Linked DNA regions of Homo sapiens. The protein of the gene in region 1 interacts with the protein of each later gene in a pairwise test. Each region holds a gene or a part of one and is shown on either strand. Other genes may lie near its edges.

Evidence for each region.
Region 2: the proteins of MC2R (region 1) and MRAP2 interact in a two-hybrid assay, tested with the Homo sapiens proteins (one large-scale study listed by BioGRID and IntAct).

Annotation. Positions count from the first base shown.
Region 1 is NC_000018.10:13,908,823-13,912,640, reverse strand, and holds part of MC2R (adrenocorticotropic hormone receptor), read left to right. Parts: intron 1-3,818. UniProt on the Homo sapiens protein: Hormone receptor primarily expressed in adrenal cortex that plays a key role in regulating adrenocortical function. Upon corticotropin (ACTH) binding, facilitates the release of adrenal glucocorticoids, including cortisol and corticosterone.
Region 2 is NC_000006.12:84,040,112-84,043,929, forward strand, and holds part of MRAP2 (melanocortin-2 receptor accessory protein 2), read left to right. Parts: intron 1-3,818. UniProt on the Homo sapiens protein: Modulator of melanocortin receptor 4 (MC4R), a receptor involved in energy homeostasis. Plays a central role in the control of energy homeostasis and body weight regulation by increasing ligand-sensitivity of MC4R and MC4R-mediated generation of cAMP.

The DNA.
Region 1 (3,818 bases):
ATTTTTCCTATTTCAACAGAGTATTGATTAATTGATTAATAATAATCTACAAGTTTTATTATGGTGCTATGTTGTTATTTTGTTTTATTTAGCACCAAAACAGCCTCAGAGTCCTGAGCCCCTCAGTTCCCAGCTCCTCCCACAGCTCTTGGCCCAACCTGACCCGGTCCTCCTACCCATACCTGTTTCAGAGCTAGGCTTGTCCTGCTTCCAAACACTCAGCCTCTCAGGCTCTTTGGAATAACCAAGCGAGCACAGACCTTGGAATGAGGCAGATTCGCAGCTGGGTGACCTTAAGCAAGTAACCCAACCTCCCTGAGCCTCCGTTTTCTTATCTATAATATAGGCAGGGGAGCAGGAAATAGGAACACCTACCCTTTATGTGTAACTGGAGCATTAAGAGAGAATACCTTTCACTCTGCCCTGTCTCCAACCTTTAACATTGCAAGAGAAACCATGGCAAAATCAAATTGCCCTTAAAGTGCAGAATTGTAAGGATGTGCTGAGGTATCCTGGAATCTGCTGTTTTACCTGGTTGAGTATTAAGTAAAATTGCTGAACATGCATTGTGGGCCCAACACAGTACAGAATGAATTACCTAAAGCACTCGTAAGTGAAGCCAATTCTTTTCCATGCCATCCACACCATGGAGCAGTTCTGACCCCAATTTGCAAGTGACCAAAGGCTCACCTGTCCTCTTTCTCAGCTGTGCATGTCTTACCTCCTCAGCTAGATGTTCATAGGCAGTACGGTGTTTCCTGTATCTTTTGGATTTCCAATGACATATAACCTAAAATTGGATCCTAGAGGTGCTAAAAACTGCCAATTCTTTAAGTGATTACTTGGATTAAAGCCCCCAAAAGATCTTAAATCTTTCTTCCTCCTGCCCTCCTCATATGCCCCAATCTCCTTTTTCCCAGTTAACATCCCCCAGACCCTAGGATGGAGACCCTGTCATAGATGGCGCAAAGCCAGTGACTCCAGAGCAAGGTCCAGAAGCCAAAGCTACCCGCTGCACTCATGGTGGCCCTGGGGTCTGATTGGGCTGGACTCGGCCACTTTTTAAAGGTGGGGCGAATAGGAGCTAGGTAAGGCAGAGAAGTCTTCCAGGCACTCGTCCAAAGATACCCAGCAAATTTTAAAGCCTTCATCTGGGAGAAAAAGCAGATCTTTACTGACATCCTTTTATTTCATGGCATTTGTTTGGCTAACTAAACCAGTTATAAACTAGTTTATGCTTTTTCAAAAGAGGAAATTTTGAGCCATTTCAGAGATGAGAATGAAAATGGGACTGTGCAGGGAAGAATTTAGTACTAGTTTTTAAGGTAAAACAAGGACTTGATGGAGTTTCTTTATCTAATAAAAAGGGAGCTCCAGGAGAGGCTGCAGGCTGCCTGGGTTGCTCCCTGACACTCCGGCCCCTGCTCTCGGCTGCCCGGCCCTCAGCTCCTCTCCTGTCCCTGTGTCCTTTGGCCCCTAGTCCCTGCTACTGTTACTGGCCTCCTTGCTCTAGCAATCACCGCAGCTCTGGGGTTTTGCTGCTTCGCACTCTCACCTAAGGCAACTGCACCTGCCTGTGTTCCCTGCTGAGCCACGCTGACTGCTTTTTATAAATCATAAATCATGGGATTAAGTGAGCCAATGTCAACCTGGTCTCAGGTGTAAAAGATAAGAATTCAAAAAGGAAGCATTTTCTGGGGATGATGCTTTCACCCATGATGGGGTGGTGACTGGTGTTGGTTTTGTAGGAGAGACACTGGGACACAGGGGCATCTGCCAGCTCCCCCACTGTGGTTGGCATGATTTGGGGCAAACACTGTTGTGATGAGAAGTAGATGGATTGAGAGATTCCAAGCTGCCTCTCTATCCTCCAGATGCCTGGTGCCCTGAAGGGAGCCCTAGTGCTGAGTGTAACTGGAGCAGCCTCAGCCCAGCCAGGACTAGACCAGGGACCAGCAGCCCCTGGTCAGGGAACCTTCTGGCAGCAGCTGTCTCTCCTCCAGGCAGGCTGCAGGAAGCTGTACAAGCTCCCCCTCAGGCACTTTGTAGTATATGTTTTAAATACCAAAATCAGAAAACTTGCAAAACAGCAAGAAACACACTTTTTTAATCTTCTCCACTTGATCAACAGAGTCAACACAATCCCTGTCAAAAGTCCAGAAAGCTATTTTGAAGATGTCAATAAACTTATTCCAGAATTTCTGTGGAAAAGCAGATGAGCTTGAAGAGCCAACAAAACAGTGAAAAAGAACAACAAAGTCAGAGGACTGTCACTCCTTACTTCACAGTAAGTCTGAGTAACTCTCAGACTTACTCTAAAGCCAGTAATCAAGACAGTGTGTTCTTAGCAAAAGAACAGACAAATAGATCAATGAAACAGTAAGGACCACACAAATACAGGCCCACACAAATATAGCCAGGTGATTTCAACAAAGGCACAAAAGCAATTCAATGGGAAAAGGGTAGACTTTTCAACAAACAGTGCTGGAACAATTGGACGTTCATATGAGGAAAAAATTATTTTAAACATAGATCTTATTCCTTACAGAAAAAACTTAACGCCAAATGATCATAGACCTAAATGAAAATTACAAAACTTACAACTTCTAAAAGAAAACATAGAAGAAAATCTCCATGACACTGGATTTGGTGTTTTTAGATATAACATGAAAAGCATCATCCATGAAAGAAAAAATAAATAATAGACTTTATTAAAATTTAAATGGCACCCCAGTAGCAACAAGTACATTGAGCACTCTGATCTTGGTTTCTAATACCATTCTGCACTGGAAGAAATCAGGGATCCCTGGGGGAAGTGGCTTATTCTATGACTATGTCAGGAAATAACAAGTTGAGCCTGGAACATCTTGCAGTGCCAGAGAGTAAATAAGTGTTCCAGAAAGCCACAGCGATGCAGGTCTGGCACAGGACACAGGTGCCAACTGAGAGAGCTCCCAGTGGCCAAAGTTGGAACAATTTAAGCAATAAAACAAATCAAATAGCATTGGATTATAATCTAAAGTATAAAATAGTTGTCCATGCATTCATACTGATAGAAACATAGGATTGAATAAATAAATAAATAGGGAAGGATAGGCTAATCTCCCATGCAGAAGAACTCCAAATGGATTATGTAGACACTCCACCCTCAAGGAGGTGGGGCAGAACTCTCTGCTCTGTATGTGAGGGCTATGCATTCTGACTTCCTTCCAAAGAATCCATTATGGAAACAGTGTGCAGGAAACACTAACTGCAGTGGGGAAACCCGGCAAGCATGAACTCAGCCAGGTGACCATGGTTAGCACCAGTCATGAGTCACCTTGATAGCGTGTCCCTTGATGTGATGTAATGAGAATGATAGTTTACATCTTGTGGTCTTCCTCCCGCAAGGTCCATAACCCCAGTCTAATCATGAGAAAAATGTCACACAATTGTGGCAATTCTACAAAATGTTTGAGCAGTACTCCTTAAAAATTTCAAGGTCATCAAAAGCAAGGGAAGTCTGAGAAAATGTCACAACCAAGAGAAGCCTAAGGAGACATGATGGCTAAAGGTAATAATACCATGTCCTGGATGAGACCCAGAGACACAAAAGGACATTAGGTTAAAATTAAGGACATTTGAATAAAGCATGGACTTTAGTTAATAACAGTGTGTCAATATTGGTCCACTAGTTGCGATAAATGCACCATACTCAGGTAAGATGTTAACATGATGTAAGATGCTAAACTGGGTGTGAGGTTTGTGGGGACTCTACTATCTTTGCAACTTTTCCATAAATTTAAAACTGTTCTAAAATAAAACGTTTATTTAAAAAA
Region 2 (3,818 bases), on another chromosome or scaffold:
TAATTGAATCAGGGGGTTGGTTGCCTTCATGAGTTTTCATGAGACTGATGGTTTCATAAGAGGCTTTCCCTCTCTTCACTCTGACTTCTCCTTGCTGCCGCTATGTAAAGAAGGATGTGTTTGCTTCCCCTTCTGCCATGATTGTAAGTTTCCTGAGGCCTCCCTAGCCCTGCGGAGCTGTGAGTCAATTAAACCTCTTTCCTTTGTAAATTACCCAGTCTCAGGTATGTCTTTATTGGCAGCATGAGAATGGACTAACACCATAAATTGGTACTGAGGTAGTGGGGAGTTACTATTAAAGATACCAGAAAATGTGGAAGCGACTTTGGAACTGGGTAATGGGCAGAGGTTGGAACAGTTTGGAAGGCTCAGAAGAAGACAGGAAAATGTGGGCAAGTTTGGAATTTCCTGGAGATGTAGAGGGCTCAGAAGAAGACAGGAAAATGTGGGAAAGTTTGGAACTTCCTAGAGACTTGCTGAATGGCTTTGACCAAATACTGATAGTGATATGGACAATGAAGTCCAGGCTGAGGTGGTCTCAGATAGAGATGAGGAATTTGTTGGTAACTGGAGCAAAGGTGACTCTTGCTATGGTTTAGTAAAGAGACTGGTGACATTTTACCCTGCCCTAGAGATCTGTGGATCATCAGAGAGATGATTTAGGGTGTCTGGTAGAAGAAATTCCTAAGCAGCAAAGTGTTCAAGAGGTGACAGAGCATAAAAGTTTTGGAAAATTTGCAACCTGACAATGTGGTAGAAAAGAAAAACTCATTTTCTGGGAGAAATTCAAGCCAGCTGCAGAAATTTGCATAAGTAACAAGGAGCTAAATGTTGATTGCCAAGACAAAGGGGAAAATGTCTCCAGGGCATGTCGGAGACCTTTGTAGCAGCTCCTCCCACCCATGGCCTGGAGGCCTAGGAAGAAAAAATGGTTTTGTGGGCTGGGTTCAGGCCCCCCCTGCTGCGTGCAGTCTAGAGACTTGGTGCCCTGCATCCTAGTCATTGCAGCCATGGCTAAAAGGGGCCAAGGCATACAAAGGGGCCAAGGTATAGCTCAGGCTGTAGTTTCAAAGGGTTTAAGCCCCAAGCCTTGGCAGCTTCCATTTGGTGTTGAGCCTATGGGTAAACAGAGGTCAAGAATTGAGGTTTGGGAACCTCCACCTAGATTACAGAGGATATATAGAAATGCCTGGATGTCCAGCCAGAAGTGTGCTGCAGGGACAGAGCCCTCATGGAGAACCTCTGTTAGGGCAACGCAGAAAGGGAATGTGGAGTCAGAGCCCTCACACACAGTCTTCAGTGGGGCACTGCCTAGTGGAGTTCTGAGAAGAGGGCCACTGTCCTCCAGTCGCCAGAATGGTGGATCCACTGATAGCTTGCCCCGTGCACCTGGAAAAGCCACAGACACTCAATGCCAGCTGTGAAGGCGCCAGGAGGGGGCTGTACCCTACAAAGCCACAGGGGTGAAGCTGCCCAAGGCTATGGGAGCCCACCTCTTGCATAAGCATGACCTGAATGTGAGATATAGAGCCAAAGGAGATTATTTCAGAGCTTTAAGATTTAATTACTGCTTTATTGGATTTCAGACTTGCATGGGGCCTGTAGCCCCTTTGTTTTGGCCAATTTCTCCCATTTGGAACAGTTGTATTTACCCAATGCCTGTACCCCCATTGTATCTAGGAAGTAACTAACTTGTTTTTTATTTTACAGACTGATAGGCAGGAGTTGCCTTGTCTCAGGTGAGACTTTGGACTTGGACTTTTGAGTTAATGCTGGAATGAGTTAAGACTTTGGGGAACTGTTGAGAAGGCATGATTGTGTTTTGAAATGTGAGGATATGAGATTTGGGAGGGGCCAAGAGTGTAATGATATGGTTAGGTTTTGTGTCCCCACCCGTCTCATCTTGAACTGTAGTGCTCATAATCCCCATGTGTTGTGGGAGGGACCTGGTGGGAGGTAATTGAATCATGGGGGCAGTTATCCCCATGCTGTTCTCCTGATAGTGAGTGAGTTCTCATGAGAGCTGATGGTTTTATAAGGGGCTTTCCCCCTTTTGCTCACACTTCTTGCTGCCGCCATGTGAAGAAGGATGTGTTTGCTTCCCTTTCCACCATGACTGTAAGTTTCCTGAGGCCTTCTTAGCCATATTGAACTGTGAATCAATTAAACCTCTTTTCTTTATAAATTACCCAGTCTCAGGTATGTCTTTATTAGCAGTATGAGAATGGACTAAAAACTTCCACTGAATTATCCCAATGGGAGAGGAGGGTTAATCCTTATTTCTAGGATTCTGAAGCAGAGGCCAAAGGTGGCAGGAGCAAACATTTATTTGGTTCTTACAGTTTACTCTGTAACATATCTGCACTTATTTAATATAAAACATAATCCTCCAGGTCTTGTATTATTGATGCTCCAGGAAGATGAACCAGGTATGCCCTGAGACTCTGGGGACTATTTGGGACCCTTAGACCTTGGCAAGCTGAGGGACACTATATTCTTGCCCTCACTTTATAAAGCCCCTCTTTTCTGGCCAGGCCCCTCCCTGAAAGATGAGGAGGCTATGGGGTGCCTTGAGCCTGCACTGCCCTTGCACCCCAAACTCTGGTTTGCTTGTAATTGATTGTCCTGAGGTTGCAGTGGGTGCAGTAGGTGGAGAAACCACAAGAGCCACACATCCTAGTTTAAGAGCCCAGGCCTCAGAAGATAAGATGGTCATTAGAACGTTCAGCTTTTCTACTGCTGTGTCTCAAGCTCTTAAATAAACCACTGCTTTAACTTACATTTCCATTTCTGTGGAACAGAGCTGGAAATACCTGGTACCTCTCCTTTTCACTTGTTTGCTAAAAGAATGGTTCAGCTCAGGACCATAATAAATAGTGTGTGATATGGTGTGTGCTGTTTGGAGACAGATACCACAAGCCAAAAATACAAAGTAGTCTTGTTTGGCAAGTCATCCTCACAGTGATTTAAGACACGGCCAGTCTCTCTTCTTAGTCTTATTCTGCCAACTCTTTCAATAACTCCACTAATTAGAACTTAAAGAGTGGTTGATTCCCTGGTATTCTTAAAATGGTCTAATTTGAAAGTTTAAAATCTTTAAAGTTTTAATTCACCTAGTCAGGCCGTTTTAGAATAGCAGCTATATAAAACAGTATGAGGACTCAGTGAGAGGCCAAGTCTAGTCTTTGGGGAGTCTGATGTATACTTTCTTGCTACTAAAATGAGAGATTCAGATAATCCACATAATGGGATTTAAGAGAAGAGAGAGATCCTCAATGTAGTGAAATAGTTGGAGAGATCTACTTGGAGGAGGTAGTATCTGATCCCTACCCTCAAGGGTAGACAGGAATCTGGAAAGGAGGGAGAGGAAGTCCAGCTTGCAGGTGGAACTGAATGGGCAAAAGCTCAGAGGACCATTTTGAGGGTTCCCCCGCTGCAGGTTCCTGTACCATCATGAGCCCTCCCTTTTTTAATGACCCTGTTGTTTCTACTGTCTATGTCTTCAGGCTTTTGTGTTGTCCCTCAAGCTGTGTGTGTATGGGGGGGTGAGGGGTGTGGGGTGAGTGGGTGGGTGGGTGTATTTGAAAGAATGAAGTTCATTGTGTGGCAGAGGATAGTTTGAAATACAAGCCTGAATTCTTTAAGAGCACAGTCCACAGTCCTTGAATTTTTGACCTCTACTAAATCTTTCATGGTTAAGTAACAGTGTTTAAAATATCCTTGTTGATCTGAATGGACTCATAATAATTTTACTGTGTTCAAAACTAGTGCTCTTTCTCTGTGAAGGGCATATTTATGAGAACTTAGTAGATGTGTTT